2 separate regions of the Homo sapiens genome follow, and region 1 is linked to region 2. A link means that fine-mapping ties the variant in region 2 to the expression of a gene that starts in the linked region. Tissue or cell type: blood mononuclear cells. Region 2 holds a variant in brackets; the other region holds the start of a gene. All regions are shown on one strand. Distances are from middle to middle.

The links. PIP is the estimated chance that this variant, and not a neighbour inherited with it, causes the effect.
Region 1: it holds the start of TRPC4AP, and the variant in region 2 is fine-mapped to the expression of TRPC4AP in blood mononuclear cells (TOPMed, PIP above 0.99). The same link has a PIP of 0.9 or more in monocytes after LPS and monocytes after R848.

The regions. Positions count from the first base shown.
Region 1 is chr20:35,089,909-35,095,136 of GRCh38, reverse strand. It overlaps TRPC4AP (transient receptor potential cation channel subfamily C member 4 associated protein), which reads left to right and starts at 2,330. Exons shown (of 19, transcript NM_015638.3): 1 at 2,330-2,523. The coding sequence starts at 2,356. RefSeq lists a silencer at 2,429-2,558 and an enhancer at 4,085-4,644.
Region 2 is chr20:35,053,412-35,058,639 of GRCh38, reverse strand. It overlaps TRPC4AP (transient receptor potential cation channel subfamily C member 4 associated protein), which reads left to right. Exons shown (of 19, transcript NM_015638.3): 4 at 1,069-1,126; 5 at 3,609-3,664. Among named protein-coding and RNA genes, the nearest start is that of TRPC4AP, 37 kb to the left of the region's middle. RefSeq lists an enhancer at 2,643-2,752. The variant A/C (reference allele first, on the strand shown) is at 2,803.

The DNA.
Region 1 (5,228 bases), 36 kb before region 2:
ACGGGGTTTTGCCGTTTTGGTCAGGCTGGTCTCGAACTCCTGACCTCAGGTGATCCACCTGCCTCGGCCACCCAAAGTGCTGGGATTATAGGTGTGAGCCACCGCGCCCAGCCGGCTTACAGGTTTTTAATGGCAGGAGGGCAGAGGCCACAGGCGAAGTCATAAATCAATACATAGGGGCTGTATATTGGTTCCACCTAAAAAGACAGGACATCTCCAACCAGGGGCCCACAAGTGGATTCAAAGATTTTCTGACTTGTAATTGGTTAAGGAGGTAAAGCTTTGTCTAAAAATTTGGGATCTGCAGAAAAGAATGTTAGCTCTGACTTATGGTCGTGTCCTCCTCCAGGCCCCCTAGGAAGAAATTTATAACAAAAAATAGAAGTCAAAGTTTAGTTCTCAGCTCTCCCTTATCTGAGTTTGCCTATCAGCAGATCCATTTGGTGGGGGTTCGAGTTTCTAAGAAACAACACTCAGGGACAAATTTTAAGATGTTATATTCAGTTTCTATAGGGAACAAAATATCTCCTGACTGTAACTTCTTTGGCTATTTTTTTTTTTTTTTCTGAGATGGAGTCTCATCCTGTCATCAAACTGGAGTGCAGTGGCGTGATCTCGGCTCACTGTGACCTCTGTCTCCAGGGTTCAAGTGATTCTCCTGCCTCAGCCTCCCAAGTAGCTGGGACTACAGGTGCATGCCACCACGCCCAGCTAATTTTTGCATTTTTAGTAGAGATGGGGTTTCACCATGTTGGCCAGGCTGGTCTCGAACTCCTGACCTCATGATCTGACTACCTCGGCCTCCCAAAGTGCTGGGATTACAGGTGTGAGCCACTGGGATTACAGGTGTGAGCCACTGCACCCGGCTGAGTTTATTTTTGTATAATGTGAGAGATGAGGATCCAGTTTCATTCTTCTGCATGTGGCTTGCCAGTTATCACCAGCTGTTGAATAGGGTGTCCTTTCCCCACTTTATGTTTTTGTTTGCTTTATCGAAGATCAGTTGGCTATAAGTATTTGGTTTTATACTGTGTTCTCTATTCTGTTCCATTGGTCTATGTGCCTATTTTTATACCAGTACCATGCTGTTTGGGTGACTATGGCCTTATTGTATAGATTGAAGTCAGGTAATGTGATGCCTCCAGATTTATTCTTTTTGCTTAGTCTTGCTTTGGACATGCAGGCTCTTTTTTGGTTCCATATGATTTTTAGGATTCTTTTTTCTAGTTCTATGAAGATGGATGGTGAGTCTACTCCTTTTAGATGGGGTGTGAGGATGGTAACCATAGTGCCAGTTCACCTGGGAGAGTCACTTTTATGCCTACCGTCCCGGTGTAATTATTTATTGTGTCTTTTCATTCTTTAAAGTGTTCTGGTTTGAGCAGTAAGTTACAGTCATCTTAGTTATGAGTCACAATCTTCACCATTCCCTGTTACATCACACTTAGCTCTCCTCTTTCATTTTTATTACAGGCCCCCTGCTAGGAAGGGAAAAAGTGTGTGTGTGTTGGGTGGGGGGAGTCAGTGCCATCCTGCCACAGAAGTTAGCTGAAAAAATGAGTATTAGAGACAACATGCTATCTGGTGGATAGAAATTAGGACAGGGTTTTCATCTGACAGAGAATATGATGTCACAATTTACTAATCCCTTTCCCTTCCATTATTTAATTTCACAACAACCTACCCAGTTACACAACTTATCCAGTTTGAGACTGCGTTTCTTTGTGTATGGATCTGCTGTCTTCCCCTGTAACCTGCATTTCGTGATAAAGGATCCCAGGCCGTTCTGCTCACCACTGTATCCCAGACACCCTCCCTTTCCCCTAGACATGGTTTGGTGTCGGGCGCAGAGAAAGCCCCAGGAACTACGATTGATCAGGCTCCCAGAATCTATAGATGGAGTGACCTGACGAGGACACAGGCGCAGTGGCAGAGCGCGATGACTTGGTCGATGTCCGCGGTGAGTCACGTGTAGAGAGAAGCAGGCAGGAAGCGGACTCGAGGGCCTGACTCCTGACCTGAAGCCCAGGATCATTTCTTGGCCAGCTGCCTGCATCCTGCCCAAATCGGCGAGAGAAATGGGAGAATGTGGACCTTGGGAGATTTCGCCGAAATGCTGGGCCCGGGGGCCAGAGAAACCGGCAGTGCAGGAAAGGCCACATCTCTTTTCCCACCTACCCCGCTGCCGCGCAGGACTACAATTCCCAGTAGCCTCCACGCCGCACACGGTCCCTGCCACGCGGCTTGCGCCTCCGCCGACGGCCCACTGGGGGCGCTGCGGCGACCCCTCCGCCGCCCCGTAGAAATCTCCGCGGCCCCGAGGCCGCTTGCTTCCTGTTTGTCCGACGAGGAGACATGGCGGCGGCGCCGGTAGCGGCTGGGTCTGGAGCCGGCCGAGGGAGACGGTCGGCAGCCACAGTGGCGGCTTGGGGCGGATGGGGCGGCCGGCCGCGGCCTGGTAACATTCTGCTGCAGCTGCGGCAGGGCCAGCTGACCGGCCGGGGCCTGGTCCGGGCGGTGCAGGTACGAGGCTGGACCAGGAGGGGCGGGGCGGGGCGGACCAGGCGGGAGCTGGCGGGGGGCCGGGGAAGAGGCCTTTCCAGGCCGCCGCTGGACGGGCCAAAGCCCTTTTGGCTGGCCGGAAGGCCTCCCTGTGAGCTGCCCGGACGCTCTCAGCTGCAGCGGGGCCGTGGGAAGCAGCTGGCTTGATGTCCCTTGTCAGGGGCCGAGCGGGGCTGGGCTGCTGTGGACACTGATGGCGTGTACGAACCCTGGGCCCAGTTTCTGGATCCTCCCTTCTTTGCGCCACGTCTACACGTCTGGGGGACCCTGTCGTGTTTGTTTTAGCCTCTGTGGGCCTCGAGTTTATCCCGTGTATTGGGCGTGGGGGAGGGGGTCATCATTGCAGCCCCCAAATGGTTCCCGAGCATTTCATAAATGTCATTTTCTCAGGCCTTTCCTTGACACTCTTTCCTTCCCCTTTCTAAAGTAGGTCCCCATTGTTATTCTGTCACAGCCGCGAATTCGTTTCGTTTACATTACTTTCTTAGTCTATAATTTCGTATTTCTTTGTTGTCTGCCTTTTTCTCGCCCGTCTCCCACATTAGGCTGAGTTCCAGCGGGTGCAGAGACTATATCTGGTTTGCTAGTGTAGAGCGTCACGGTTAAGAGGGACTCTGGAGTCAGGCCTGGGTTCAAAGCCCTGCTCCTCTCTCTTGCTTGGGCAGGTGACCTTTCTGTGCCTCAGTTTCCTCACTTGTAAGATGAAGATGAGAATTAGTAACCTACCTTTTAAGATTGTTGTGGAGATCAAAGGGGGCAATTGTGTAAAGCATTAGTGCATTTCTGGTGCATACTAAGGGCTGAAGGTAGTTAATATTAAGCATCTGACTTATAACAGGTGCCCAACATATGATTATTGTTATTTTTGAGTGAGCGAAGGACACTGCTTTAGGGTAAACCAGGTTGAATAGGACCTAGTCCACTACTTCTTCCACCCTCCCCCACCCCGAACCTTGCTAACACCTGTAAAACATTAGCTTTATTTAAAGACAGCTTTTTCATAAAAAGTTTGAAGGATACTCAAGAAACTGATAAAGTGGTTGGTGGGAGTGAGGTGGGAATTGGGCTAAAGGGGGAGAAAATGGGAGTGAGACTTTTCACAGTGTAACTTTATTTAAATTTAATTTGAATATCACTTCCTCAAATGACGAAAAGGATAGAATAAAATAAAGGCTAGGGGGTCTGTGTGTATGGAGGACTGTGGACGAAAGGAGCAGTTGTGAGTGAGAAATGTTTTCCTGGCCATCACACAACCATAGATGAGCAGCCTTTTTCCCCCTTGTGTTCTTAAGACCTGACTTAAGACCCTGTAATCCCAGCACTTTGGGAGGCCGAGGCAGGCAGATCGCTTGAATCCAGGAATTCGAGACCAGCCCAGGCAACACGGCAAAATCCTGTGTCTCCAAAAATTTAGCCGGGCATGGTGGTGGTGTGTGCCTGTGGGGAGGCTGAGGTGGGAGGATTACCTGAGCCTGGGAGGCGGAGATTGACAGAGTGAGACCCTGTCTCAAAAAAAAAAAAAAATCCTAGAAATACTTGCTCTTTCCTTCTTAAGCTAAGATACCTTACCGAGCTGGGTGTGTAGAGACAGGCAGAAAGAGGACTAACTTTTAGTGAGCACATAACCTTTAGAAAAAGTACGGTACAAGGCATATGTTATCTTTAATCCTCAAGCTTTTGAGTTATGCTTCAAGACTCATTTCTTAATATGGATGAGGAAACTGAGGCTCAGAGAGGTTAGATGATATGTTCCTAAACACCCATCCTGATAATCAGTGTTCTGAGAATAATAGGGAGCCACAGAAGTTCTTTAGCATGATAAATGAGGCAATTTAGGCAACTTAATTTGTTTCCAGTGCTGAATGACTTAGAATGGGAGGAGCCTAGAAAAGCCCACCAGAGGCTGGGCACAGTGGCTCATTCCTGTAATCCCAGTGCTTTGGGAGGTCGAGGCGGGTGGATCATCTGAGGTCAGGAGTTTGAGACCAGCCTGGCCAACATGGCGAAGCCCCGTCTCTACTAAAAATACAAAAATTAGCCGGGCGTGGTGGTAAGCACCTGTAATCCCAGCTACTCTGGAGGCTGAGGCAGGAGAATTGCTTGAACCTGGGAGGTGGAGGTTGTGAGCTGAGATCACGCCACTGCACTCCAGCCTGGGTGACATAGTGAGACTTCATCTCAAAAAAAAAAAAAAAAAGCTCACCAGATACAAGGCTGCTGGAATATTCTGGAGCCACAAAAGCAAGGCAGGTTATTGTGGTAACTGATGGTTGTATATAGGTGTGGGAGCTATTTCAGAAGTTGAAGTAGAGACCCCCTGCCTGGAGCTATAGTGAGGATAAAATGGGGACCTTCATCTTTCAAATATTTCTTTTCTTAGTTTTTTTTTTTTTTAATTTATTCCATGCTGTGCCCTTCCGCTCCTCTCTCCCATCCTGCAGAATAAGTTATTTGCTTACCCTTTTTTTTTTTTGAGACAGAATCTTGCTCTGTCACCCAGGCTGGAGTGCAGTGGCAAGCTCAACTTCCTGGGCTCAAGTGATCCTCCCACCTTAGCCTCCCTAGTAGCTGGGACTACAGGCGTGTGCCACCACACCCCATTAATTTTTGTATCTTTGGTAGAGACAGGGTTTTGCTCTGTTGCCCAGATTACCCATATTTTTATA
Region 2 (5,228 bases):
CACTCCATTAGCTACATCATAAGTTTTGGTATTTTCATCCTTCTTGGATACTTTATACTTCCCCTTGTGGTTTCTTCTTTGGCCCATTATTATTTAGGATGGGTTTTTAAAATTATCCATATAATTCATGAATTTCCCAAATTTCGTTCTGATTTTAATTTCATTCCATTGTGGCCACACAACATACTGTATGTGATTTAAGTGCTTTTAAATTTATTGAGGCTTGTTCAGTGGCCTGAAATTTGATCTGTCCTGGAGAATGTTTCATGTGCACTTGAGTAGAATGTATACTCTGTTCTTGCTGCATGGAGTGTTCTGTAGATGTCTGTTAGAATATATGTGTTCGTTGTGTTCAAGTCTTCTATTTCTTTGCTCGTCTGCCTAGTTGTCTATTATTGAAAGCAGAGTTATTAACGTGTCCAACTTTTATTTTTAAATTATCTGTTTCCTTCATTTCTGCCAGCTTTTGTTTCATGTATTTTTGGGCTCTATTGTTAGGTACATACATATTTGTAGTTGTTATATCTTTCTAATGGATTGACCCTTTTATCAACTATCCTTTCTCTCCGTAGAATGAATTTTTAAATACATGCTTATTTTAAACAGTTTGTGCAAAATTGTATTAAAGTATGTAAAATAAAAAACACATGCATATAACCCCCAAACCTGTAGAAATCAGTGTTAACAATTTATGGTGTATCTTTTGAGTCCTTTTAAAATAAACTTACAAATGTTCTTTAAACAGAAGAATCATAGTAATAATGTTCTGCAGCTTTTCAGAAATTAAAGCCGCATTAGATCCCAGAGATTACCTAATCTAAAATACTTCTTTTCAAAAATGAGAAAGCTGAGGCCAGAGAAGGGCAAGTAGGTGGCCAAGCTGGGACTAGAACCTGGGTCTCCTGACTTGCTGCAGTCAGGAGCCTTACTGAACCTTAACTGCCTCCTGGAACAAAAGGGTCTTGTAATACTGTGACAGATACATGGGCCATGAATGGTTATGGCAAAATCATTTTATAAGTTATACTTTGAATTAATTTTGAAGATTTTATCTAATTTTTTTTATAGCTTCTTGTAGAAATTCTTATGAGGCCTACGATCTCTATCCGGGGACAGAAACTGAAAAGTAAGTATACCTATTAGCTACTGGTCCTTGTTTTCCAACCTGCCGATACGGTGGCAGTTCCCAGCAGCTGCCTTCTTCCTTCCCTTCCTAACTCTTAATAGTAAGGACATGTCTTACATTTAGCTACAGGTTGCTCTCTCCTCCCCCAGCTAAGCAGCTGTCTTTATTCATTCTGTACTGCGTAGAAATTCAGATCTGGGTTAAGAGAATGCATCTTTGTACTTTTGATAGTCCTGTGATCCAGCTTCTATGTTTCCTTGGGAAATTCTTCTTTCTCACATATAACTAGCTGAGAGAGTAAGATCACTCTGTTTTATTTTTTTTAAACTATTTTTTTTAGAAAGGTGATACATGCTCTTTGTAAAAAGTTCAGGCATTACCAGGGTGTGAATGGTAAAAAGTCAGAGTGTTTTGGTATGCACTATTTCTTAAGCTGGGTGGTAGATATATGGGTAATATTCTATTATTATTTTTTATAACTTACACGTTACAAATAATTCTTTTTAGGTATTCAATTTTTTTTTTTTTGAGACAGTCTCTCGCTCTGTTGCCCAGGCTGGAGTGCAGTGGCATGATCTTGGCTCACTGCAACCTCCGCCTCCTGAGCTCAAGTGATTTTCCTGCCTCACCCTCTCAAGTAGCTGGGATTACAGGCGCCCACCACCATACCCGGCTAATTTTTGTATTTTTTTTTTTAGTAGAGATGGGGTTTCACCATGTTGACCAGGCTGGTCTCGAACTCCTGACCTCAAGTGATCTGCCCACCTCAGCCTCCCAAGTGCTGGGATTACAGGCATGAGCCACCGCACCCAGCTTCGGTATTTAATTTAAAATAAAAAAGTGAATGCACTTTACTCTGGTGTTAAAAGCCAGAGATGACTTCAGTTAATGTTTGGTGAATGCCCTCCTACCAACTTTGCGTTTTTTTAATTTAAAAGATTTTTTTTTTACCCCAATACGACATACTGTATAAGGCCTCATTTGTGCATGCAGTAGTGGTTATTAAGAGGATTTATATTCATTTTTAATGTCTCAGCTGTGTATTCTAACTTGGTCTTTCATGTTCTCTATGTACCCTCATAGCAAGTAGCATATTGTAATTATTTGTTGGTGCACTTGTTTAGTCTCTCTTCTTCCCACTAGATTTATAGGTTCCATGAAGGCTGAGACTTTTTTTCCCTCACCACTGTATCTGCTCTAGAGTAGATGCTGAACAATACTTGATGAATGAGTGAATCCCAATTCCTTTTAAAAATGGAGGATCTAGAAATAGTGAGATATATAGTGAGACATGCAGAGCAGTGTTTCACCCTGCTCTGAAGTCGTTAAATAAATCAATCACAGAGCCCCAGTAGGTTGAAAGGTGGTGATAAGGGATGCAGAGCGTCTGCGTTGTCTCAGGATTATGAGACAACCCATCTAGTCAAGCTAGCTTGGCAGGGCTGCCCATTGGGATCTGAGAAGGAGACCTAGCATTTTAGCATTCCTAGCAGCTTAGGAGTGAATGGAAACAATTTTAAAAAATAGAAGCAAGTGCCAAATAAAGCACTTTGTCCATGGTTCATACTCAGTTTCATCATCTTTTGGTTTTGGGCTCATGAAAATTAAGTTTCGTTTTTATGCTACTTTCCTGTTCCTGCTCACAGGGAAGTAGTAGTTTCTTTATAAGAATTAGT[A/C]ATAGATCAGACATTAAGAGCCATTTGCCCAACACAGATAACAGCAACAAAAAAAGAAATGCTCAGTTAATGAGTCTGATAAAAATGGTATTTTTGTTTGCTGCAGTAGAACTTTCAATGGAAATTTATAACAAGAGCAATTGAGATGCTTATACTTTTAACTTTTAGCCAGGCGTGGTACACGCGCATGCAGTCCTAGCCACTCGGGAGGGTGAGGAGGGAAAATTGCTTGAGCCTAGGAGTTCGAGACTACAGTGAGCTGTGATTGTGCCCCTGAGTGACAGAGTAAGACCTCATTTAAAAAACCAAAACAAATGAACAAAAAAAAGATGCCTATACTTTAGATTCTAGTAGTTCTACTTTTGAAAATGTATCTTGAGGAACTAGTTTAATACAAACATGAAAAGGATACACATATATATTAAGTTGTTCATTTGTGGTCTACTTAAATAGCCAAAAAACACAAAAAACAAAAAAAACAAATCCTAGATATATCCTAAGCAAGACATTAAGGGAAAATGGCTTTATTAAATGATGGCACAACAACAGGTTGAAATTATGAAGACTGTGGAGCATAATAAGAAAACAGCTGCTGTATCAAACCAAAAGCAATATGCAAATGGGCTTGTAGGTTCTGATGGGCACTATGAAAACCTTTGGTAGACAGGGGCTGGAAGAAGTATATTAAAGGAAAAATAATCATCTTGGAGGGGATTATAACAGTTCTTATGCTGAAAAAAATGTGGTAACTGTTGTACTATCTTTTCATTGAGAAAAATAACCAGTCATTACCCTTTCACTTTCAGTAAGTGATGAAATGTCCAAGGACTGCTTGAGTATCCTGTATAATACCTGTGTCTGTGTAAGTACCCCTGCCACTGGGGCTCTGTTTATCTCCCCTACCAGGTCTGCAATGTTTAAGATGGGAATATTCGAGTAGAATGGCAGACATAAGAGCTGCTTTCAGACAGTGGGGGAATCGGGCTTATTTTATGTGTGCCTGAAAATCAGGACTAACTGGTAGAAATTACGGGGAGGCAGAATTTTGTAGCAGTTGTTAAGAGCCAGGACTGCTGCAGCAGGTAGTAAACTCCTTTGGCCTTAGAGCTGTCCAAGTAGAAACTGGACACTTGTCAAAAGGTGACAAGTGTTGGCAGACTGTGACCTTTAAGACTCATTTTAACTCCATTATGCCTATTTCTTCATTTTCCTTGTTAGAAAACAAAATGAGAACCAGAAGCCCCGCCCATATATTGAGCAGGACTCTACTAGGTTGACCACTGAGCCAGGAAGAATGGTGAATAAAGAAAGCAATCTGGTAGAAACAAAAGAGGATGGCACTTAGTGTTAGGACCTGATTTTGTGTTCTGGCCCTTGGCTTAGTACACCTCCCAAGCCGTAGTTTCTTACCAATAGAATGCAGTTAGCAGTTGTATTAACATCATAGATTTATTGTGAGAAATGAGATAGTAGATGTGAAAACACTTTGTAAAACAATATATAAATGTTAGTTTTTAAAAGATACAGTACCTGTCTTTTAGAAACTTATGATAAACTGTGTAAACTGTGAATCATAATACATGGCAGAATGAGACGAGCGCTATTATAAATGTGAACCCTGTATGCTGTGGAAATAAAAAAAAAAAAACATTTAGCTCCATTTCATTTCTTGCCTCATTCAAAATAAGATTTCTGACATCTTGTGGGTGTATGCAAAATCTACCAAGATCACGAACTTAGAAGCAGGTAAGAAAGAAGAAGATAAAGGTGGGGACATAACGTATAGCCAGGAATTGGGCTGATATAAAAATGAAGACCATAAAATCATCTGTATTACGGATGGGCACAAATTTGGCTTCAAGCTTCTTAGCAGCCAACACAAATAGGGGAATATGTTTGAACACTTACGTAATTCAGCATCTATAATAGTGCTGTGCAATTGAAATATAATGCAAGCCACTTGGGTTATTTTAAATTTCCTTGTAGCCACATTTTTTTAAAGAAAAAAGTAGGAAGAAGTGGTGAAGTTAATTTTAATGATAAATTCTGTTTAACACAGTGTATCAAGAATATTGTCATTCTAACATGTAATCAGTATAATTAATTATTAATGAGATATTTACTTGTTTTTCGTATTGAGCTCTCAAAATCCAATGTGTGTGTGTGTTTTGTTTTTCTTTCCTCTTGTTTGAACACCCAGAGCACATCTTAGTTTGGCCTGGCCACCTTTTAAGTGCTCGGTAGCCATGTATAGCCAATGACAGAGATAGGCACAGGGAGATCTATAAGATAAAATTTCAAATTGTTCAGGAAATGCACAGTTCTTGCAACTAAGGCCAATAAGAAATTGTCCTTATAGAAGAAGACAGTGTATAATATAATGACTCCATCTTTGGCAACTCCATATAGTCACTAGTTTTATGAGG